Homo sapiens: one gene and its partners. The protein of the gene in region 1 interacts with the protein of each later gene in a pairwise test. Each region holds a gene or a part of one and is shown in the gene's direction. Other genes may lie near its edges.

Region 1 (6,689 bases):
AAGGGATCTTTAATTTTTGATATATTCAAGTTAATTTTCTAAATGTGAATCAGTCCTTGGACTGCAACTATATATTCACCTACAAAATCCCAATCAAAAAATTACATGAGCCTGTCAAGCAGATCTTTAGTTTTCCACTTCACATAAGATCGTTAATGTTCTAAATTAATCTATTCATTTAGATGATTTTTGTCAGTTCTTAAATGGGATATAATAAATTTAGCATTTTCATCTTAACAAGCAAAAGAGTTAAAAAACAAAACAAAACACTACTCCAAGCCAAATACATTCTAGCTGGTTAATTCCAGACTTGTCCCAAGTGGTTCCCCAACCTCTTTTCCACTGGTAATTTCTTTTCATGCAGGCAGAATATAGGGGTGCGAGCGCTGTGAGTTTTACATATGAGCTTGGATAGGGGAACTGAAGCGAGTCAGGAGCCCTGCTGGAAAAGGGGTTTGCCATTGGATTGTCTGTGGCCTGGTTTCTTTCCAGTAGTACAGTAATAGGGTAGATTGAAAACAAGTATTTACTTCTGATTCTGCCTGCATTTAGTGTGAAATGCTCTTAAGGTATTGCTTCTAAAAAGCAAATTAAGCAGTTAAGTATAAAGTCCCTGAATTCATATTTCAAAATAAGGCTTTTATGAGATTTTTATTAAAAATTGCAATAGCCATCACAAATCTGAGTTTTTCTAGGGGTGAGAGAAAACTGTATTGTGATGAGCTAGATTAGTTGTAGTTCCAGAATAAGAACAAAAATTCAGAGTTGTGTGGTGCCCATCATTGAGTAAATGAACCCTAAAAATGAATAAGCTAATGAACTAGTTCATGGAATTATTTCTGATGGTCTTTTGACCTGATGCTGCCATACTGCAGTGTTACCAGCTCCCCCTAGAAAACGGAACTGTTTAAAAACACAGCAAGTTACAGAAACCATTTTATTCTACAGCCATTGGGGTACTTCAGTTTATGGGATGTTTTTGGAAACTTCTGCTTTGGGAGGGATGAAGATCATTGATAAATGTTATTTGCTTTCTGAGTTTTGGGGTCATTTCATTGCTTATCAATGAAGGGCAGACAGAGGAGAGAATATCTCAAGTCTTTTCTGATAAAAGGCTTGCTTGAGGGAGCTTATAACTTGCACCTAGAGGGTTTACCCACTTTGTGGATTTGATTTATCCACCAACCACAGCAACCAATAATGTCAAGATTCTAGGAGTTTATGAAAGAGGCTAGTATGTTTTCATTTTGAGTCAGACATTCTTTTCTCATTCTCAAATCTGTTTTAAATGCTCCAATTTTAAAAATGCCAATGAAAATTTTATAATGCTTCTGTAGTAACCATATGCAGTTTACTTTGAATTTAGGAAAACAGTTTTGTATGATGAAATATTGTGCAGAATCTGTAAATAAGGTAGCTTAAAAATTAAAAAAAAGTCTAATTAGAATATGATTAATCCTTGAAATGTAGAAACTAGAGATTGTGTTGAGTCAGAACTGTTATGTTTGTATCCAGGTTTCTATTCACCACATATACCATCTTAGAATACACACATATCTGTGAGTTATAATTTAAAGTGGTCATCCAGGGAAATGATCATGGAGTGCTACTACAGATGTACAGTTTTACACTACTGATGTGTTCTTGCCATACCCAAGTAGGGAATCACTTCCAGGAAAACAAGTCCTCAAGCACTCAATGACTTTGTAAACCCATGACTGAAACAAGACTCATCTGAGGCAGTAGGACTGGTGGGATTCTACTGACTTCTTAGTATCACATGGCACCATCACAAATGCATTGTTAGAGCAGCAACATCCAGAGTTCTTAAGCTTGTACCCTAACACACAAATTTGACTTCTAACCCTGAAATATCCTATATATATTTCTAAAACTGTTTGTAGTTTTCTTGAGAAAAAGCACTTTATAATTTACTCAGTTTTCAGTAATAAAATTAACACTGACTTGAATGTATTTAAAAAAATTCTCCACAGTTTTGTCTTCCTCAGATTGTTTTTATCCTTATTCTCTGAAATTCCTGTTTTATTGTCTAAGACTTAAGAGATTCAGCTTTATCAAGTTAGAGTACAGTGTAATTCAAATTCTCCCTCCCTTGGGCATAGTTACTGAAGTTCAAATTTCCTTAAGTATTTTTTAAAAACCTGATTTTAGTTTTTTTTTTCCTGCAGAATCTTAACTTTTCCATTATTCTGGATGACAAATAAACATTTATTAAAATGTGTTAGAATTAGTATTTACTAGGTTCCTAAATTGTCAGTATAGGTACTTTGATCACACATCAAAATGGAATTTCTGCAACTTAAAGCATTTTGTTACAAATTGTAGTTGAAATAGAATTTTATCTATTTGTCTGGATGAATAGGTTGTTGGGAATGAACCAGTTATCTGTTCTTTTCTTCCAAATGCAAATGGTGCAGCTAGTTGATAATAGTATATTCTCATCCTACTATAAAGTGCAAATTTCACCTTAATTTTGCATATTTTAAAATTTTTGTTTACCCTTTGTAGCATATTTACATTTTAGCATTTGCTAACATTGATTTAATGTGTTAAAGATTCATTTTGGATATAGGGTTGACTTGTTGGAGATACTAGTTCATAATTTTAAAATTCCCAAGAGAAGTGTCTTTGAAGTGGTAAACACAGTGCACTTTAAGCCACTTCTCTTCCCACAGAGTCCAGCTGAAGGAGGTAAGGGCATGCTGCATGAGAGTAATGCCGTGATGAGTGTCTTACTCTGGTAAAATGCCATTTACAATGCCTGGAGACTGAACACTGAACAAAACATAGTGCCCTTAGAATTTCACTGGAAAAACATGTGAATCACATAAGTTAGTTGGCAAAAGGAACTGATGTGTATGTGGTGGGGTTGCTTTGAATAAAGTATTTCCTAACCTATTCTGGGGAGAACGCTCAACTGATCTTAGAGAAGTGTGAAATCAGTTTCATAGACTTAGGGAAAAATCTGAAGTGCTTGCACTGTGAGGGCAGAGGCCTGCCTCATTAGTCTAGCTGTATGAACATGTCAGTCCACAGAAGCAGTTTTTACCTGTACTCATCTGCCCTTCAGTCAGCTTTGTGACAGAAGGGCAAACATCTTCACAGAAGAAAAAGTTCAGAAGGTTGGCATTGGTGGTTTCATTGCTACAGAATAATAGTGTTACTTGATAGTATCTGACTAAAAGAGCTCTCATTTTCTAGTACTTAGTAGTAAAAAGAATGTGGTGGAGTCCTCCAGATGTCTAGTGTGGGTGGAGGATATCAACTGGTTATTTCAGTGATCTACAGCCTTACCTTTTGAATGCTAAATGTCTGGAAACTTCAGGCAGGGTCCTACAAAACAAACTGCCATCAAGATTGGTGTGTACCATGAAGGCAGTTTTAGATAGTTTGACTGTTCATGGCTGCAAGAAAGACCTAAAATTCAAGGGCCCGTGAACTTCAGATACGTAAAAGGAATATCACTTCTGTTCTAGAAGAGTACTAATTAGACTTGTTTGTGAAATTTGAAAATTTGGCTTTGAGACACTGGTAACAAACATATCTGAGCCCTCCTAAGTTTGGTCAGCACGGAGTAGTAGCTCTGGCATCATGTGGCTGTGTAGAGCTCCAGTGTGATTTCAAGCCCCCTCTAAAAACTGCCTTAGTCTGCATGAAGTAGTTAACTCTCCAAAGTGCTTTTTGTCTGGCAAATCCCTTCACAATTTTCACCTCTCGTCTAAAAGCTTCCTTAAAGGAAGCCTTCCTTGATCCCTTAGGCTAGGTTAGGTTTCCAGTCTGTGTTCTCATAGCACTCTGCACTTTTTGGTTCCTTAAAGCAACTCTGTGTTATTTTTTAGAATTTTAATCTGAATCTCGTGTGTCACATACCTAGGTCAGAAAATACTGGAACAATGAAGTTAAGATTTAGTAATTCAAATTATGTAAAATGCTCATATATATGTTTTTAGATTAGCAGCTTTATGATGCCGATGCTGAAGGAACTTTTCACCCCATTCTTACAAGTCTGCTACTGTTTTAAGTGACATCCTTATAGTTGTAGATAAGCAAATGTAAGGTTATATCAATGTGAAGAAGCCCTTAGTATCACATTTTAAAATTTATCATTTAGCAATATGACTTTTAAATTTATTGTTTCCGAATGAGTGTTGTTGAGGAATGTTAGCAGTAGTAAAATCTTGTGTTACAAGATTTTTGCATTTACATGAACTTTCACTCATTTTTCAGAATTTGTTCCTAGAGACAGAGAACCCAATACAAAAGTGAGAACATGTATGCATAATCAGAAGGATGCAGTGCAGATGCCTAGTGAAACTCTGAAAGCAAAAATGGTACCTGAGAAAGTTCCCCGCAGATGTGCTACTGTTGCTGCAAATAAAATAAAGATAATGAGTAATCTAAAAGAAACGATCTCAGGACCAGAAAATGTCTGGATTAGGAAGAGTAGCAGAAAACTGCCCCATCGAAATGCTTCTGCTGCGGCTAAGAAAAAATTACTGAATGTTTATAAAGAGGATGATACAACCATAAATTCTGAAAGTGAAAAAGAGCTAGAAGATATTAATAGAAAAATGCTTTTTTTAAGGGGGTTCAGATCCTGGAAAGAAAATGCACAATAGTGACTATGAGAATGTAGAAGTGGCATCTGAAAACAATTGGTACACAAGTAAACTGGCAGTTACATTCTGCTCCCAGCTCTAAAATTACTCCCTTATTGGCATCTTTGGAGGAATTTTCTAAAAGCCATAATCCAGTGGGTTCCTCCCAGTCAGCTCTTGTACAGACATGTGCTCTGGGGAATTCTGAGGAGGAAATAAATTGCAGAGTCTGTAGGTGGAGAGGTGGAAAGAAAAGACAAATGGCCTGCTATAAGACTACTATTCCTTTCCAGAATGCAAGGCCTTGAAGACATGATTCCTTAGAGGAAGAATATAATGGGAAGTGTACAGGCTAGGAAGAACTTGAAGTGAACAAATTTCAAAATCTTAACCTGATGCTAATTTTCAGGGTTCTCCATTACAGTGTAAAAATTCAGACCACGACAACTATGGTGTCATGAGGAAAAAAAATCAGGCATTTTTCCAAAGGAAGTGCTAATGGGCCTATTTGACTTCTGAGTGAAGCAAAAACTACCCAGATCCATTCCCTACAATTCACATCCCCAAAGGTCAAAAACAAACTAGGAGGACCTGGGAATTTCAGCTGGAGATACTGATTATTGAGTTCTGAAGTAGAGTGTTGGAAATAGGCAATTAGAGAAAGTCCATTGATGTCATTTTGTTTATAATATTGCAGTTCATACTGAATGACCACTTGATATGACTAATTCAGGGAATATATATTTTTCTATGAAAGCTATGAATGTTACTATCACGGCTTTTCCTTATTTTTACTTGTATGTAGCAGCATTTACAGAAATGCCAAAAATGTGCCTCATTAAGAGGCAGGTCTTAATCAGTTAGATAAAAATAAAATGTATAGCTTAAGATCAAAACAGTCATATTTTTAGATACAGTGAAATCTTTTATGTTTCTCTACAGCACCTTAAAAATTAGAACTTGAATACTTTGAGTAAACTTACTACAATCTCATCCCAACAAACTTTAATGGTAGCATGTTTGGCCTATTTCATTGTGGCCTGTACTAGGATTAGAAAATTTGGTCGTGGTATAACAAAGAAGTGTATTTACAATAGGATTTAATTTGTTGTTAATATGTATTTGTTGAAATTAAAATTGCCAGATTAAATGAATATACTGTCGCATCTTTTTAACATAGTAACGTGTTACTGGAAAAATTAAGTTGTTGAAAGTAAGTTGTTTTCCCATTTAAAAATATCTGAATATATGATTTGCATGTGTAAATCTGAAAAACTAAACTACAGAAACCTAGGGTTTTCTATTTCTTTTTTAAGTCAAATGCATTTTTTTTTTTTTGTTATACAGATGAACCAAGTGTCTAAAATACTTGAGAAATTTGTGGTTGCATGTCTGTTTTAAAAAAAAGGCTTTTTGTTTTTTAGCATAAGCCAGAATATTCTAACCTACTAAGTCTGTGTCCTTTGCTCCTTTTGTAGTATACTTTCATCTAAATTACTGATCCCCAATATGTTGATACACAGGTGAGAAAGGGAAGAATTCCTAATAAACTGCTATTACTTTTAGGTGCATGGGGTTTGATTTTTGAGCTCTAATGAAATGCTTAAACTTCTTTCCAGTTCAAATTTTACACTTAATTTATAATATTTATTGAGTATATTATGTCCTCAACAAGTAACTATAAAATGAAATACTTAACTCGGTGAAGACTATTTTATGCAAAGTTTTTTTTTTTTTTTTTTTTTTTTTTTAGCAATTTCAGTGTAATGAAAGAATTTAAGCTTTGAATTTATAATTTGCTGTGGTGGGGTTAATTTCTGTCAGTATTTGAGATTGTATTATCAGTCTTGCATAATGAAATCCTTTTTTGGCTAAGTATTTAATTCGAACATATTTGCCTTTTTAAAAAGTGCTTGGCCTAAACTTATTGTAACTGCATGAAATAAGCATTTGCTTAAAACTTAACATTGTAAAATTGTTCTCTCTGAAATGTGTGCAGAATTTAAATCATGGCCAAATGTATTACTATTACCCTATTTACAGTAATTTGCTTTGCAGAAAATATTTCTT
Region 2 (6,720 bases), on another chromosome or scaffold:
TAATAGCAGATAACATCAGTACACCACTAATCACATCCAGACACTGATGGTTTTACACATGATGGATTTAATCCTGACTATAACCCACTTTACAGATGAAAGTGAGCACAGAGAGATTAAGTAACTCACACACAGTCATTCGTAAGTCATGAGATGGATTTGAACCCAGGCGGGTTAGCTCTAGAGTGCTTGCGTTTAACTGCTAAGCTATGTCCCTTCTGCACTGACAGCTGTGTAAGAGACATTTCTAAGCAGAAGTTGAGAGCGGTGGAGGACCTTTGCACACTTGAGTTCCCGCATGGTCCTGTGAGTCGAGTGTAGGGCCCAGCTCTCCCTACGAGGGATGGGGCTGGGCCTCGTGTACCTGCCCCTCTGTAACCGAGCTTGGTTTCTGATCTCCTCATAACTTCATGACTTTATGCAAGACAGAGTGGTTCCTGATATGTGTAACCCTGAACCCTTCCCTCTCCTTGCCACTAACCCCATGTCCACACAGTTACTCTCTCAGGTGGGCTGGCCTGAGATTGGGACACCTCCTCTCCTTCAGGATCTCATATTACAGCCAGCCCTGTCCAGCACAGAGAGGCCGAGGTTCAGAGCCGGGCAGTGGATTACGTGGGGCCACTCGACCGTGTGGCTTTAGGAACCCCAGGTTCCTGATCCCAGTCTAGGGTCCTGACCTCAGAATGGCCACTGACCTTGAAACCCTTCTAACCTGTCCTGGCCCCCATCTCTCTGCCTTCCCTAATCGCTGCCCGTCTCCCTACACAGGACGTGCACCATGGCAACGGCACCCAGCAAACCTTCTACCAAGACCCCAGTGTGCTCTACATCTCCCTGCATCGCCATGACGACGGCAACTTCTTCCCGGGGAGTGGGGCTGTGGATGAGGTAACCGCATGTCAGGGCCACATCTTCCAGCCTCATTGACCTCCTCCTGACACTTACTCTGCCTCTGTCATGACGAGCTGTGTGATCCTGGGCAGACTGCTGAGCCTCTCTGATCCTAAACTTCCCCACCTGGAAATGGGGAGGCTGGATGAGCTGGGCTGGCAGCTCTAACAAACTGGTGTTCCCCTTCTGGGACTCTGCTGTCCTCATGTCTCTCTTGCCTCCTGTTTTCCAGGTAGGGGCTGGCAGCGGTGAGGGCTTCAATGTCAATGTGGCCTGGGCTGGAGGTCTGGACCCCCCCATGGGGGATCCTGAGTACCTGGCTGCTTTCAGGTACGTGCTCTGGGGGCCCAGAGGGGCAAGTCCACCCTCTCCTGTCCCTTCTCCCAAGAGCACCAGGGGGGAGGTGATCAGTTGGATTGTCAGCCTGTCCCCACCAGTTCCTAGACATTGTAGGTGAACGCCAGTGAGAATAGGACAAACAGAGAGAAGAATGCAAAAGTCAAAGGGTGCTTTGCAAAGGCATACATTACCGAGAGCCAATGTCAAACTGATTGCTGGCAGGTGGGTGGTGGAGTGAGCAGAGCTGGCACATTTAGTCAGAGAAGGCTGCCACTCTATTTGGGAAAAGAGAATTCTGGAAATGGATCTTCAAACACTTTTCTGGAGTTATCTCCATGACAGCTAATTCTACGAGAGCCCTGGGCTGGAGTTCCTGGAGTCTTCTCAGAGCCCAGGGCTATGAAGAACACCCAAGCAGGCCCCAGAGTTGGATCAGGGGTAGAGGAAGGCAGCTGGGGGGGGGCCTGGAAGAGGGAGAGGATGAGAGAATGTAGCCAGGTGGCGCAGAACCTCAGAGGACCTAGTTGTCCCCTACTCAGCTCTCAAGTAGTGAGTAGCTGGGTGTGGTCAACTCAGTCCAAAGGACTGAGCACTTGTAGTCCCTGAAGCTTTGTGACCAGAGTCCATCTCCGCAAGGCTGTGAGATTACCCTTTCCCTGTGGCTCCGGCCACTGCACCCCACAGATGCTTGCATGCACACACACACATGCACACACACATGGTCACACACACTCCTCTTTCATTCCCTCTGGTGCTCCATCCTTGGCTCCTTTCTGCCTCTTGCTAGTTAAGTCCCCTAGGGGGCTGAGTCCTTAGGCTGTGTGTGCCAGGGACATGGGTGGCCAGCCAAGGTCAAGGAGGTCAGAGAAATCTGCCAGTTGTGCTGGGGCACTGGGAGCCTTGGAGTCCTAAGAACAGGGTGCCCCACCGCAAAGTTGGCAGGACCGCCCCTGGCAACCCTGCACAGTACGATGATCGCCACTTCTTGTGACCTCACAGGATAGTCGTGATGCCCATCGCCCGAGAGTTCTCTCCAGACCTAGTCCTGGTGTCTGCTGGATTTGATGCTGCTGAGGGTCACCCGGCCCCACTGGGTGGCTACCATGTTTCTGCCAAATGTAAGGGAGCCTCAGCTGAGGGGGACGTTAGGGACAGAGAGCCAGGCGGTGCGGGGAGTTGGGAGGCACTCCCAAGTCAGAAAGGGAAGGTGGCAGTGGCCAGCCCAGGGCTTTCAGCCTGAGGACTGGAGTATGGCAGCTGGTCCTGAAATTCCCCGGGATCTCCTAGCCGAGCACAGCCCAAGCCCTTTCTCAGGACCAGGCCGGTTCACCACGGAGGGCTTGACCAGGTCATACCCATGGGGACTTAAGTCCAGTAGGCAGGAAGCTCAGCCGTGGGACTCCCCACCACAGCTGGGTTGATTCCAGGTGGGCTGGCAGCTCCTCCAGAGGAAGGGGAGAGAGAAGCAGCACTCTCAGAATAGAGGGTGGCCACAGGGCCCAGAGTACAGAAAGAAGAGAGGGTGTAGCTCAGTGAAAAAGACACAGGCTAGAGTCAATGACCCAAGTTCAGGTCCTACCTTGCTGCCACTTACTAGCTGTGGGGCCTTTCCCAAGGCCCTTAACCTCCCTGAGCCTTGAGTGAAGCATACTAGTAGGTTTTGTACGACATTCAATGTGAAAGCACTTTGGAAATAGTGATTGATACATGTGAGTCATTCTTTATTAGGGAGGAAGCAAGCAGGGAAGCCACAGGGGTAGAGAACAGGGTCACCTCTCCACTCCCGCCCCTCCCATTTCTCCCCTCCCAACCTCTAGGTTTTGGATACATGACGCAGCAACTGATGAACCTGGCAGGAGGCGCAGTGGTGCTGGCCTTGGAGGGTGGCCATGACCTCACAGCCATCTGTGACGCCTCTGAGGCCTGTGTGGCTGCTCTTCTGGGTAACAGGGTGAGCCGTCTCCCTCCCCCATCCATGCTTCTGTCAGGCAGGTAAGCCCGGCTCTCAGGACTACCCAAGGAGCAGGCAGATGGGATGGGACAGGGTGGGAGTGGCCAAGCCTGAAACAAGGTAGGCGAAGCGGAAGCCTCTGTTCCAAGTTAGGTCCAGGCAGCATCTCCTGGCCTAGGTAGAGTGTGCTTGTGGCTAGAAGGCTGGGGCCCCTGGGGTGGGAGTGAGCTGGGCCTGTGGGTCCCTGAGAGACTGGTGGCTGATGTACTGTTTTCTATAGGTGGATCCCCTTTCAGAAGAAGGCTGGAAACAGAAACCCAACCTCAATGCCATCCGCTCTCTGGAGGCCGTGATCCGGGTGCACAGTAAGTGTGGAGATGGGACACTCGCTGAGCTCAGACTGAAGGATCTTGGTGGTACCCTGCCCCACCGTGGCCAGATCCTAGGGCTTCCGGTGCCAGCCAGGTGACCTGCTGTTGGTCTGGAGTAAGATTCCTGTGAGTGACCCAGGCAGCAATGGTGAGCACCCCCCAGTGAGGGGTTATCCTCTGAGCCCCCCCGATGGAGCCAGCAGGGCCTACCAGACAGTGGCCCCTCAAGGTAGGGACTGGCCTCCATCTCTAGCGACAGCCCTAGACCAGGGCCAGGTCAAGAGCAACACTCAGGCCTTGTTTGCCAAAAGGCCTGGTTCCCATCCCTCCCCTCAGTCCTGGCCACAGGCGTCTCAGGAGCTCTGCTGGCTTGGGGGCTGCGTCTTGGGATAACCCCCACATTTGTAAAGTACTTTAAATTTTCAACTTCAACTCAACATCTATTGAGCATCTTATGTCAAGACCCATAATCTATACTAGGGATAAAAATGAGTAAAATAGATTCCCATATCAAGGGCTGGGTAGGGGAGCCGTGATGTCTTTACATAATGGTAAAGACATGGCTGATTCCTCTTACGGTGGGTGCCCTCACACTGAGCCAGATTCCAGGACATGGTTCCTCACAGCAGCAGGCAGGAGGAGCATTCTCCTGGCCTGGGCACCCATGCAGAGCGGCCGTGGTGATGGTCAGTTCTCCCATGTTGTGTTCGTCCCACCTCCCAGGCCCTCCTTTCCTGAGTGCTGGGCTGAGCACTGGTGGGGGCTGTGTTTAAGTGGGAGGCCCGAGCTTGGGGCTCTGGGAGGTCACTGTGACACAGACCCTGTCTGCAGGCAAGCAGGCTCTCCTGATGCTCTCAGGAGCCCCGCACCTGTGGGGAATGAGTCAAAGGTGGCCTTGCAGCCACAGGGGATGAGAGAAAGGCTGGGCACCTGCTAGGACTCCCTCACAGCCATGTTGAACCCACTCTGTGTACCCTGTCAGGCTGTGCGGGAGTGGGAGCGAAGTGAGGAGAGGGGCAGGTGGGAGAGCCGACCCTAAGTGGAGGACAGGCCCGCTCCTCCGGGGCCCTGGGCCTGAGACACCAACCTCAATATCCGGTCTAGGACGCAGTGTGGAGGGGCTTGCTTTCTCCAACCCTTTCTGACCTGGCATCTTACCCCAGGTAAATACTGGGGCTGCATGCAGCGCCTGGCCTCCTGTCCAGACTCCTGGGTGCCTAGAGTGCCAGGGGCTGACAAAGAAGAAGTGGAGGCAGTGACCGCACTGGCGTCCCTCTCTGTGGGCATCCTGGCTGAAGATAGGTAATGCCAGACCCCTGGCCCTGGGCCCACAGCCTCTCCACCGCTTCATTCCTCCCTGCTTGAAGACCCCGGGTCCGCTATGCAGCCACCCCAACCCTCCCAGGCTTCCTGACCAGGGTTGAGAGGAAGCTTAGCTAAGGCCCTTGCTGCAGCCCTGGTGCTCCAGCATCCCACCCTTGTCCCTCCCCACAGGCCCTCGGAGCAGCTGGTGGAGGAGGAAGAACCTATGAATCTCTAAGGCTCTGGAACCATCTGCCCGCCCACCATGCCCTTGGGACCTGGTTCTCTTCTAACCCCTGGCAATAGCCCCCATTCCTGGGTCTTTAGAGATCCTGTGGGCAAGTAGTTGGAACCAGAGAACAGCCTGCCTGCTTTGACAGTTATCCCAGGGAGCGTGAGAAAATCCCTGGGTCTAGAATGGGAACTGGAGAGGACCCTGAGAGGAGACGGGCTGGGCGGCGACCCCCACAGGGCTCTCGAGAACAGATTCTCCCCTCCAGTATGGGCCCTGGCTGTGGCCCCCATTCCTCAGGACTGCACAGAGGAGGACTGGCTCCGGCTCCGTCGGGCTCACCCTTAACCACTATTCCTGGCTCTGCAAACCCCAGACTTTGCACACAGCCTCAGGCTCCACACAGAAATGTGAACTTGGCCTCAGACAGGCTGGCCCTTCCTAGGCTCTAGGGGCTAGGGGGGAGTGGGGAGCCAAGAGGTCCCATATTCCTGAGTGCAGGGGTAGTCCCTCTCACCTGCTTCCTCAGACGACTCTGGAAGCTTCCCTCTACCACTGGGCACTGAGACGAAGCTCCCTGACAGCCGAGACTGGCAGCCCTCCATCTGGTCCGTACCCTCGCCAGAGGCCCCCCTACATCAACCTCCTGGCGATGCCCTGGTGGAGCAGATGGGTGCTCTGGGAGTCCTGTGCTTCCTGATCCAATGGTGCCAAACCCTTCATCTCCCCAAGAAGCGCAGCATACCCCTGGGACCCCTCGGCCACTGCCCACTCGGGGAGCCTTCTCTGTTTCTGGGGCCTCCCCCACCATAGCTCTGATTCCCACCCCACATAGGAGTAGCCTGACTGAGGGGGAAGGGGTGGGAGAGAAGATACAGACATGGAGGAGGGGAGGCTGCTCTGGCAAAGTCTTCAAGGCTTTTGGGGGTCCAGGCCTGGGGTCAAGAAGGAAAATGTGTGTGAGCATGTGTGTGAGTGAGGCGTGTGTGTGAGCGTGTGTGTGAGTGAGGCGTGTGTGTGTGTCTTTCCTAGGACCCACCATACCCTGTGTATGTATGCATGTTTTTGTAAAAAGGAAGAAAATGGAAAAAAATCTGAACAATAAATGTTTTATTTGCTTTAAAAGTGCCTCTGAAAGGGCCCCCCAGAAGTGAGCAGTGCGCCGTCAAGCGGGTGTGCAGGGCACACAGCTGCACGGCACAGTGTGGGTCTGAGTCACTGCCGGAGGAGGGACCAGGGTGGTCTGGGCCGCAGCCCCTTTAACAATCTGCCCTTCCTGCCCTGCAGGAAGAACCCATTCTGAACACACCCTGGCTGTCCCTGGCTGCCCCACTTTGGGGTGACAAAGAGGAGGCAGCCCTGGGCTGAGTCCACAGAGACCAGCCCTGATATGGCAGGAGTGGGGGTGGGGTGGGGGAGTGGGAATACAGGAGCTCAGCCCCAGCTCACCACGGCATCCCCGAAGAGTTGTGACTCAGACACACCTGGGTTTAAGTCCCAGCTGGGAGCTCAGGTAAGTCAAATCGTCTTCTGGGGCCTCTGTTTATCAGTAGAAGGCTCCAGAAGTATACACTGTTGATGGCTCCTTCCCGCTCTGATGCACCATGCCTGATTAAGCATACACTGAGCCT
Region 3 (7,038 bases), on another chromosome or scaffold:
GCCAACATGGCAAAACCCCATCTCTACTAAAGATACAAAAACGATGGGCCAGATGCAATGGTTCACGCCTGTAATCGCCGTAACACTTTGGGAGGACGAGGTGGGCAGATCACCTGAGGTCAGGAGTTCGAGACCAGCCTGGCCAACATGGCGAAACCCCGTCTCTACTAAAAATACAAAAATTAGCCGGGCATGGTGGCGCACCCGTAATCCCAGCTACTTGGGAGGCCGAGGCAGGAGAATCGCTTGAACTCAGGAGGCGGAGTTTGCAGTGAGCCGAGATGGCGCCACTGCACTCCAGCCTGGGCAACAAGAGCGAGACTCCATCTCAAAAAAAAAGTGTCTATTGCCTTGTATCTCCAGCACTGACCGAGGCCTGTAAGCAGTATGGCAGGGAAACCCTCGCCTACCTGGCCTCCCTGGAGGAAGAGGGAAGCCTTGAGAATGCCGACAGCACAGCCATGAGGAACTGCCTGAGCAAGATCAAGGCCATCGGCGAGGTACTTGGAGTAGTATCATTGAGGAGCATTGTTATTCTTCTGGGTGTGCGTGCTGGTGAATGGCCAGGGAATCGGTGATGTTCTGAGCTAGTTCTTTCTGCACTTAGAACTTGATTCTAGAAAGAGATTGTTAAAATTGGAAAATCTGGCCGGGTGCAGTGATTTATGCGTGTAATCCCAGCACTTTGGGAGGCCGAGTCAGGAGGATCACTTGAGGCTAGACGGGATGGCTCACGCCTGTAATCCCAGCACTTTGGGAGGCTGAGGTGGGCAGATCACTTGAGGTCAAGAGCTAGAGACCAGCCTGGCCAACAGGGTGAAACCCTGTCTCTACTAAAAATACAAAAATCAACCCAGCATAGTGGTGCATGCCTATAATCCCAGGTACTGGGAGGTGGAGTCAAGAGAATTGCTTGAACCCAGGAGGTGGAGGTTGCAGTGCACCGAGATCATGCCATTGCACTCCAGCCTGGGCATAAGAGTGAGATCTATCTCGAAAAAAAAAAGGATCACTTGATCCCAGAAGTTTGAGACAGGCCTAGGCAACAAAATGAGACCCTGTCTCTTTAAAAATTAAAAAAAAAAAAATTTAAAAAGGAAAAACCTCCTGAAGGACTTTCCAGCTATATTTAATTCACTGGCTGTTAGCTGAGAATCTACTATGTTGTCATCATTACACTAGGCAATATCAAAGAAGTATAGGCAGCTCCCCTGTCTCTGAGGATTTTTATCTAGGTGGGCAGGTAATACCCAAAATGGAAATAACACTGTGTTCATTCATTTACTAAAGATGTAGTGCCGAGCATGGTGGCTCACACCTGTAATCCCTGCACTTTGGGAGGCCGAGGCAGGAGGATCACTTGAGGCCAGGAGTTCAATATCAGCCTAGGCAACATAGTGAGACCCTGTCTCTACAAAATAAAATTTTTTTTTTAATTAGACAGGTGTGATGTCACGCACCTGTAGTCCCAGCTACTCGGGAGGCTGAGGCAGGAGGATCGCTTGAGCCCAGGATTTGGAGGCCACAGTGAGCTATGATTGTGCCACTGCACTCCAGCCTAGGCAACAGAGTGAGACCCTGCCTCTGCTATAAATAAATATGTCCTGTATACCAGAAATTGGGTTAAGTATATATAGGGACAGAGAAGACATGGACTCTATGGAAAAGAAAAATAAGAAAACCATTTCTATGCAGTACAGTTTTTTTTCATTTTTTCCCCAGTGTTATGAATTGGAATATATTGGTTAAGATACAAGGATAGGGCCAGGCACGGTGGCTCACGCCTGTAATCCCAACATTTTGGGAGGCCGAGGCAGGTGGATCACCTGAGGTCAGGAGTTCTAGACCAGCCTGGCCAACATGGCAAAACCCCATCTCTACTAAAAGTACAAAAAATTAGCCAGGCGTGATGGTAGGCGCCTGTAATCCCAGCTACTTAGGAGGCTGAGGCAGGAGAATCACTTGAACCTGGGAGGCTGAGGTTGCAGTGAGCTAAGATCGTGCCTTTGCACTCCAACCTGGGCAACAGGAGCGAAACTCCACTCAAAAAATAAATAAAAAATAAAAGCCATGAGGATAGACTGTCTAATTGGAGTTCCAGAAGAAGATAATAAAAAGACCACATCCAGCCAAGGTGGGTGGATCAATTGAGGCCAGGAATTTGAGACCAGCCTGGGCAACTTAGTGGCGCCCTGTCTCTACAACAAATTTAAAAATTGGCCGGGTGTGATGGTGAGCACTTTTGGTCCCAGCTACTCAGGAGGCTGAGGCAGGAGGATCACCTAAGCCTGGGAGCTCAAGACTGCAGTGAACCGTGTACTCTGCAGTGAATTGCAGAGTGTACTCTGCAGAGTGGTTCACCTGCAGTGAACCACTGTACTCCAGCCTGGGTGAGAGAGTAAGACCCTGTCTCTAAAAAGAAAAAATAAAAAGATCAGGGCCAGGTGTGGTGGCTCACGCCTGTAATCCCAGCACTTTGGGAGGCTGAGGTGGGTGGATCACTTGAGGCCAGGAGTTTGAGACCAGCCTGGCCAATATAGTGAAACTCCATCTCTATTAAAAATACAAAATTAGCCAGTTGTGGTGGCTAATTTTGTAATCCCAGCACATACCTGTAATCCCAGCTACTTGAGAGGCTGAGGCAGGATAATCCTTTGAGCCTGGGAGGCGGAGGCTGCAGTGAGCCGAGATTGCACCACTGCACTCCAGCCTGGGCGACAGAGTGAGACACTGCCTCAAAAAAAAAAAAAAAAAAAAAAAAAATTATCATCTACATCTTTGCCTCCCTAAATAATAGAGTTAGTTTCACATGATATAGACTACAGGTAAATGGAGTCCTACTGTATATATTCTTCTACAACTGGCTTTTTCACTCCACATTCTGTGAGATTAATCCAAGAAGATAAATTCATTTTCACTGCTCTCTCATTATCTATTGTGTGAATATCGCTTAATTCATCCGTCTGTTCTCTTGGTGATGGACACTTGGGTTATTTCCAGTTTGGGTTGTTATTAATTTGCCCCTATGATCATATATGCACACATGTCAGTTTCTCTAGAGTATATACATAGAATCAGAATTACTAGGTATTAGGATGAATCTCACACATAGAATGTTGAGTGAAAAATCAAGTCATGGAAAAATATATACAGTAGGATTCCTTTTATATAAAGACTCAAACATTCAAACTTAATAGGGATGCATCTATGTGGAATTAAAAAATAATAATAATAAGACAGGCCAGGCATAGTGGCACATGTCTGAAAATCCCAGCACTTTGGGAGGCCGAAGCGGGAGGATCACTTGAGGCCAGGAGTTTGATACAGCCTGGGCTACAAAGCAAGACTCTGACTCTACAAAAAAGTTTAAAAGTTAGCAGAGCCTAGTGGTGTGTGCCCGTTGTCCCAGCTACTCAGGAGGCTGAGGCAGGGAGGATCACTTGAGCCCAGGAGTGGGAGGCTGCAGTGAGCTATGATCGCACCACTGCACTCTAGCCTGGGCAACAGGCTTTTATGTTTTGTCTTTAAAAAATAAAAATAAAATAAGACACAACAACCACGCTCTTGAATTCTGTGTCTCTTGGGGTAGAAGGCAGGGAGTAAGGGAGATAGAATCAGGGCACATACAAGTTCAAATAGGATTCCAAAGGTATTGATGTTTCTTACAGCATTCCTTAAGTTTTAAGTTGGGTGGTGGATAACATGCGTCTTTATTCTTATCCTTTGAACCATTCATATATATTTTATACCTTAGTATGTATAACACATCATGTTTTAAAAATCATAGGCTTTGCTGTTTGTCAGACCTTAGTTCAAATCCCTGCCCTGCCATTTGTTACCATAACTGTGGTCAAGACGTTCTACCTCTGATCCCTGGCTTCCTATCTGCACAGTAGGAATAATACCCGCCTCATATGATCACTGTGGAAGCAAAGTTAAGTCAGGGTCAAAGTGGAAGATATCATCTGTATTTGAAAAAGTTGTAGGCCAGGTATAGTAATTCAATCCCAGCACATTGGGAAGCCAAGACAGGAGGATCACTTGAGCCCAGGAATTCAAGACCAGCCTGGGCAACATAGTGAGACCCCATCTCTATTAAAAAAAAAAAAAAAACAATTATCCGGGCTTGGTGGTGCACCTCTGTACTCCCAGATACTCTGGTGGTAGAGGTGGGAGAATTGCTTGAGCATGGAAGGTCGAGGCTGCAGTGAGCTATGATCATGCCACTGCACTCCATCTCTGGTGACAGGGCAAGACTGTGTCTCAAAAAAATAAAAAATTAGGGCCAGGTGTGGTGGCTTACACCTGTAATCCCAGCACTTTGGGAGGCTGAGGCAGGAGGATTACCTGAGGTCAGGAGTTTGAGACCAGCCTGGGCAAAATAGTGAAACCCATCTCTACTAAAAATATAAAAATTAGCTGGGCATGGTGGTGCAAACCTGCAATCCCAGCTACTTGGGAGGCTGAGGCAGGATAATCCCTTGAGCCCGGGAGGCGGAGGCTGCAGTGAGCCGAGATTGTGCCACTGTACTCCAGCCTGGGCAACAGATTGAGACTCTGTCTCAAAAAAAAAAAAAAAAGAAAAGAAAAGAAAGAAAGCAAAAGAAAAAGAAAAATTGTAAAAAAATACCTCCTGTGTAGCTAGTACAATTGACACTGCACAACTAAGGGACTGGGGTCTTAGTGGTGGCGGAATGGCCTTGCAGGGGGAGGCAGCGATGGCATTCTGGAAGGAGGTGGATCCTGAGTGAGGAGGAGCATGAGGTTCCAGAGTTTGTGTCACAGAGAGGACAAGATGGGGTCTGCAAAAGACCCCCCCACAACCCCTGTGGCTTGCAGAAGGTGTTTGCTGGGTGGCCTCCTGCCTTGCCATCTTGTAAGGGTTACAGATGGCAGAGGAGAAGAGACAGGAGGCCCCAAGGTCAGTTCAGCCTTTGTGATGTGTTCACAGGAGCTCCTGCCCAGGGGACTGGACATCAAGCAGGAGGAGCTGGGGGACCTGGTGGACAAGGAGATGGCGGCCACTTCAGCTGCTATTGAAACTGCCACGGCCAGAATAGAGGTAGGAGGTTCCTGCAGGATCTCCTGAAACGATGCCTTTGCAGCTGCCCTTCTGCAACACTGCTCATTAAACATGTCACAGTCGTTCATTAAGGCCATGGCAACCCCCTAAGACAGAAACCAGAATTTGCCAGGCACAGTGGCTCATGCCTGTAACCCCAGCACCTTGGGAGGATCACTTGAGTCCAGGAGTTTGAGACCAGCCTGGACATCATAGCAAGACCCCATCTCTACAAAAGATAAAATAATTAGCTGGGCATGGTGGTGCATGCTTATAGTCCCAGCTACTCCAGAGGCTGCAGGAGGATCACTTGAGCCCAGGAATTGGAGGCTACAGTGAGCCATGATTGCACCACTGCACTCTAGCCTGGGTGAGAGAGTGAGACCCTGTCTGTAAAAATGTTTTTAAATTATAAAAAAAAAAAAGAGAGACCAAAATCTGAACTCGCTAGTTTTTCTGAGTGATAGAAAATGAGAAGGTCCTCATGAGAGAAGGTCCTCATGAGAGAAGGTGATTAGTTTCCTCAAGAATCAGATACTTTGGTGTCAGAACATCCTGGGTTCTGGCCAGGCGTGGTGGCTCACGCCTGTATTCCCAGCACTTTGGGAGGCCGAGGCAGGCAGATCATGAGGTCAGGAGTTTGAGACCAGCCTGGACAACATGGTGAAACCTGGTCTCTACTAAACATACAAAAATTAGCTGGGCGTGGTGGCGCGTGCCTGTAATCCCAGCCACTCAGAAGGCTGAGGCAGAAGAATCACTTGAACCCAGGAGGCGGAGGTTGCAGTGAGCCGAGATCGTACCGCTCACTCCAGCCTGGGTGACAGAGTGAGACTCCATCTCAAAACAAAACAAAATGACACGGATCACAGAGCCAGCCCACTGCAGCTGCACTCCCCCTGAATAGGTTAGAGTCTGGATTCTTTTCTGACTCTCTCAAGAATGTGGGCAGGGACTTGGGGACTTCCAGATTCAGGTTTCCCAGCTACCACACGATGTTGGACTGAAAGTATAGTAAGACATTAGTGGATCCTTAATATTCAAGGCACATTTAGAAACCATGCTTCTTTTTCACAGGAGATGCTCAGCAAATCCCGAGCAGGAGACACAGGAGTCAAATTGGAGGTGAATGAAAGGTCGGTCTGAGCGGCATGGTGGGACCTAGGGGAGCAGGATCTGTCTTCCTGACATTGGTCTATACTTTGCATACTTATTAGGGAATTAGAGGAGAGCAGTAGCAGCCACGGGGAAGGGCTGAGTTGATGTAATCATCAATAACAGTATTAATGATGACAGCAATATTGCTGTTTCACTATAGAAAAGAAACCCGCGCGGTAGCTCCCGCCTGTAATCCCAGCACTTTGGGAGGCTGAGGAGGGAGGATCACCTGAGGTCGGGAGTTCGAGACCAGCCTGCCCAATGTGGTGAAAAGTCATCTTTACTAAAAATACAAAAATTAGCCAGGCGTGGTGGTGCATGCATGTAATCCCAGCTACTTTGGAGGCTGAGGCAGGAGAATCACTTGAACCTGGGAGGTGGAGGTTGCAGTGAGCCAAGATCGTGCCTCTGCACTCTAGCCTGGGCGACAGAGCAAGACTCTGTCTCAAAAAAGAAGAAAAGAAGTCCTAGGAATCACAATTTCACTATTCCTTACGATGGAGACCCACAATTAGATCTCTCTCACTCCCCAGCCTCTCCTTCGGTGCCTCCCCGCAGAATGTTCCAGCAACCTCAGCACCCTTCTTACCTCCCTTTCCCATTCCAAGCTTGCCTTTGGCTAGGAGTGGGGAAGAGAACCGTCGTGTTCATTGATCTTGGATCTTGATCTCAGTGTATCCTCGACTTGTTTGTTTGGCAGGATCCTTGGTTGCTGTACCAGCCTCATGCAAGCTATTCAGGTGCTCATCGTGGCCTCTAAGGACCTCCAGAGAGAGATTGTGGAGAGCGGCAGGGTGAGCGTGGGTGTGGGCCCTGGG
Region 4 (3,488 bases), on another chromosome or scaffold:
GAGGCGGAGGTTACAGTGAGCCGAGATCGTCCCACTGTACTCCAGCCTGGGTGACAGAGCGAGACTCTTTACCCCGCCAAAAAAAAAAAAAATTGGTTCTCATGGCTTAGATAGAATAACATAGTGGTGTGAAGGAAGCAAAAGTATGCGTGTTCCAAAGACTTCACCATGCCATTCCTTTAAGAAACAAAAGCTTCCTTGTGTGTTAAATAATTCACTACATAAAAATGGACCATAGGATTGGGTCTTTGGGGTTGGGGGTTGTCACTTGAGCCTCTGCATCCAGCTGCTCGGATGTGGTGTGCTCAGGCATAGCTGGCCTCCTCCTGTCACCTCCACAGCTGGCCACCACGGCACTTTACTTCACATACTCAGCCCTCGAGGAGGAAATGGAGCGCAACAAGGACCATCCAGCCTTTGCCCCTTTGTACTTCCCCATGGAGCTGCACCGGAAGGAGGCGCTGACCAAGGACATGGAGTATTTCTTTGGTGAAAACTGGGAGGAGCAGGTGCAGTGCCCCAAGGCTGCCCAGAAGTACGTGGAGCGGATCCACTACATAGGGCAGAACGAGCCGGAGCTACTGGTGGCCCATGCATACACCCGCTACATGGGGGATCTCTCGGGGGGCCAGGTGCTGAAGAAGGTGGCCCAGCGAGCACTGAAACTCCCCAGCACAGGGGAAGGGACCCAGTTCTACCTGTTTGAGAATGTGGACAATGCCCAGCAGTTCAAGCAGCTCTACCGGGCCAGGATGAACGCCCTGGACCTGAACATGAAGACCAAAGAGAGGATCGTGGAGGAGGCCAACAAGGCTTTTGAGTATAACATGCAGGTACTATTGGGGGCTGCCAGCTGCTAGGGCTGAAGAGGGAAACTTTGACAGTGGTAGCAGATCCATAGTGGCCCATGAAGGCACACATGGCATTAGGACAGATGAGCTGCAGGGTGCCGAGAGGAAGGTGGCCACCAGATTGGCCACCAGAGCTTGTGGGCCCAGTGGGTGGTTCCCAGCATGGAGGCCTGGTGTGATAGATGCCAGTGGGTAGTGTTTTGGGAAGGGTGAGTCCTCTCGCACATAGAGGGGTCTGGAAGAATGGAGCTGGCTTCCTCCCTCATTGCAGGATGCTGGTCTTGAAGAATGGTTAATTTTCTTTTCAAGTTTTGCTCTGAGAAGCCCTGCTTTATAAGTTAATAGAGAGCCAGTGCCACCAAGGAGAGTAAATAAGCTCTGTTTACAAGTAGCCTTTAGATGAGGCTGAACCTGGGGAAGCTTACTCTGTCCCCAGGTCCTGTCAGCTTCCACTGAGGCCTCCCAGGGCACTCAGGATGAGTATGCCCTGCCACAGTCTCATTCTCCCATGTTCCAGGTTTTCTGTTGCTTCTTGATAAAAAAATAACCAGCACCTAGAAATGGGGATGTACTCATGCCCTCCTGTCTGTGCTGTGGTAGTTTCAGTGGCTTGAGCCACCTCAGAGAAGGCTACATCTCTGGTCAGTTCCCAGGGGAGACCCAGCATTTGGCAGCCTTCTTGGGGTACCAATATCCACACCTCCCCAGAGCTCTTGCTAGGGAGGGAAGACCATCAGGCAGTGCAGCTGCCGCCCACCAGTGCTGCTTGCTGTGTAGTTGGCACACCTGAGCAAGCTCACCTGCTCCAGCTCACTCTCTCTGGAGGGCGTCCTCTAAAAGGAGAGTGTAGCCAGGCGCAGTAGCTCATGCCTGTAATCCCAGCACTTTGGGAGGCTGAGGCAGGGGCATTACTTGACCCCAGGAGTTGAAGACCAGCCTGGGCAACCAAGGTGAGACACCATCTCCCCACAAAATTTAAAAATTAGCCAGGTATGGTGGTACACACACGTAGGAGGATAAGGTGGGAGGACCACTTGAGCCTAGGAGTTTGAGGCTGCAGTGAGTTAGCCATGTTCATAACACTGCACTCTAGCCTGGGCAACAGAGACCTCATCTCAAAAGACATTTAAAAAAAAAAAAAAAGTATGGGCAGCCCAAAGATGGCTCAGTCGATCCTCTGCTCCTGCAGATATTCAATGAACTGGACCAGGCCGGCTCCACACTGGCCAGAGAGACCTTGGAGGATGGGTTCCCTGTACACGATGGGAAAGGAGACATGCGTAAATGCCCTTTCTACGCTGCTGAACAAGACAAAGGTAGGTCTGTGTGTCCTGAGCTCCCCTCCTGGGGCAGGTGTAGCAGGAGACTCCACTGATGCCATGTCTCCTATTGGTGCTGCCACACAGGTGCCCTGGAGGGCAGCAGCTGTCCCTTCCGAACAGCTATGGCTGTGCTGAGGAAGCCCAGCCTCCAGTTCATCCTGGCCGCTGGTGTGGCCCTAGCTGCTGGACTCTTGGCCTGGTACTACATGTGAAGCACCCATCATGCCACACCGGTACCCTCCTCCCGACTGACCACTGGCCTACCCCTTTCTCCAGCCCTGACTAAACTACCACCTCAGGTGACTTTTTAAAAAATGCTGGGTTTAAGAAAGGCAACCAATAAAAGCCAGATGCTAGAGCCTCTGCCTGACAGCATCCTCTCTATGGGCCATATTCCGCACTGGGCACAGGCCGTCACCCTGGGAGCAGTCGGCACAGTGCAGCAAGCCTGGCCCCCGACCCAGCTCTACTCCAGGCTTCCACACTTCTGGGCCCTAGGCTGCTTCCGGTAGTCCCTGTTTTTGCAGTACATGGGTGACTATCTCCCCTGTTGGAGGTGAGTGGCCTGTAAGTCCAAGCTGTGCGAGGGGGCCTTGCTGGATGCTGCTGTACAACTTCTGGGCCTCTCTTGGACCCTGGGAGTGAGGGTGGGTGTGGGTGGAAGCCTCAGAGGCCTTGGGAGCTCATCCCTCTCACCCAGAATCCCTCTAACCCCTTGGGTGCGGTTTGCTCAGCCCCAGCTTATCTCCTCCTCCGCGCTGTGTAAATGCTCCAGCACTCAATAAAGTGGGCTTTGCAAGCTACCTCCTTCCCTGCCTCCTGGCACCGGGTGGGTCAAGCCACCTCCCCATAGGAGAGTCCCTCAGAAGCAAGGGCATGTTATGTCTGTGTGGGGAGTGGACATCGTCCATCATGGCTCCCAGCAGCCACCTCCTGCTCTGGGTCTACTCTCCAGCACCTCTAGTCTCCAAAGCAAAGTCACTCTAACCGTCTTGCAAAGATCTTTAAAGTGTATCCAGCACTGCTATTTTTTAGCTCAGAAATACCTTAGAGGTTTCCTACTTAAAAGGTTTTTTTAAAATATATATATATATTTAAAAATAAGGGTTTTAAAAAAGCACATATTTGTATTTAAACAATTCATTCTCTAAAAGAGAAACATGAACTTAAATAATTTTATTAATAGGAATCTACTACCTGTAAAAGTTTTATTTCAAAAAGGGTTAAAAAGTAGGGAAACTCTTTAAACTACTGACCAAGACTGCCACCTTCATAATTCAGATGAGTTAGTGCAGAGATGGCCAGGGCCAGAGGT

Evidence for each region.
Region 2: the proteins of BRWD1 (region 1) and HDAC7 interact in binary tests that used the Homo sapiens proteins (3 or more experiments, as listed by UniProt).
Region 3: the proteins of BRWD1 (region 1) and HIP1 interact in binary tests that used the Homo sapiens proteins (3 or more experiments, as listed by UniProt).
Region 4: the proteins of BRWD1 (region 1) and HMOX2 interact in binary tests that used the Homo sapiens proteins (3 or more experiments, as listed by UniProt).

The regions. Positions count from the first base shown.
Region 1 is NC_000021.9:39,184,977-39,191,665, reverse strand, and holds the end of BRWD1 (bromodomain and WD repeat-containing protein 1), read left to right. Parts: 3' UTR 1-4,248; coding exon of another isoform or gene 4,249-4,640; 3' UTR 4,641-6,184; downstream 6,185-6,689. UniProt on the Homo sapiens protein: May be a transcriptional activator. May be involved in chromatin remodeling. Plays a role in the regulation of cell morphology and cytoskeletal organization. Required in the control of cell shape.
Region 2 is NC_000012.12:47,782,216-47,788,935, reverse strand, and holds the end of HDAC7 (histone deacetylase 7), read left to right. Parts: intron 1-771; coding exon 772-891; intron 892-1,126; coding exon 1,127-1,224; intron 1,225-2,232; coding exon 2,233-2,351; intron 2,352-3,050; coding exon 3,051-3,184; intron 3,185-3,464; coding exon 3,465-3,549; intron 3,550-4,718; coding exon 4,719-4,857; intron 4,858-5,049; coding exon 5,050-5,095; 3' UTR 5,096-6,214; downstream 6,215-6,720. UniProt on the Homo sapiens protein: Responsible for the deacetylation of lysine residues on the N-terminal part of the core histones (H2A, H2B, H3 and H4).
Region 3 is NC_000007.14:75,546,915-75,553,952, reverse strand, and holds part of HIP1 (huntingtin-interacting protein 1), read left to right. Parts: intron 1-363; coding exon 364-500; intron 501-4,951; coding exon 4,952-5,062; intron 5,063-6,139; coding exon 6,140-6,198; intron 6,199-6,920; coding exon 6,921-7,014; intron 7,015-7,038. UniProt on the Homo sapiens protein: Plays a role in clathrin-mediated endocytosis and trafficking. Involved in regulating AMPA receptor trafficking in the central nervous system in an NMDA-dependent manner. Regulates presynaptic nerve terminal activity.
Region 4 is NC_000016.10:4,507,372-4,510,859, forward strand, and holds the end of HMOX2 (heme oxygenase 2), read left to right. Parts: intron 1-341; coding exon 342-833; intron 834-2,040; coding exon 2,041-2,167; intron 2,168-2,257; coding exon 2,258-2,385; 3' UTR 2,386-2,976; downstream 2,977-3,488.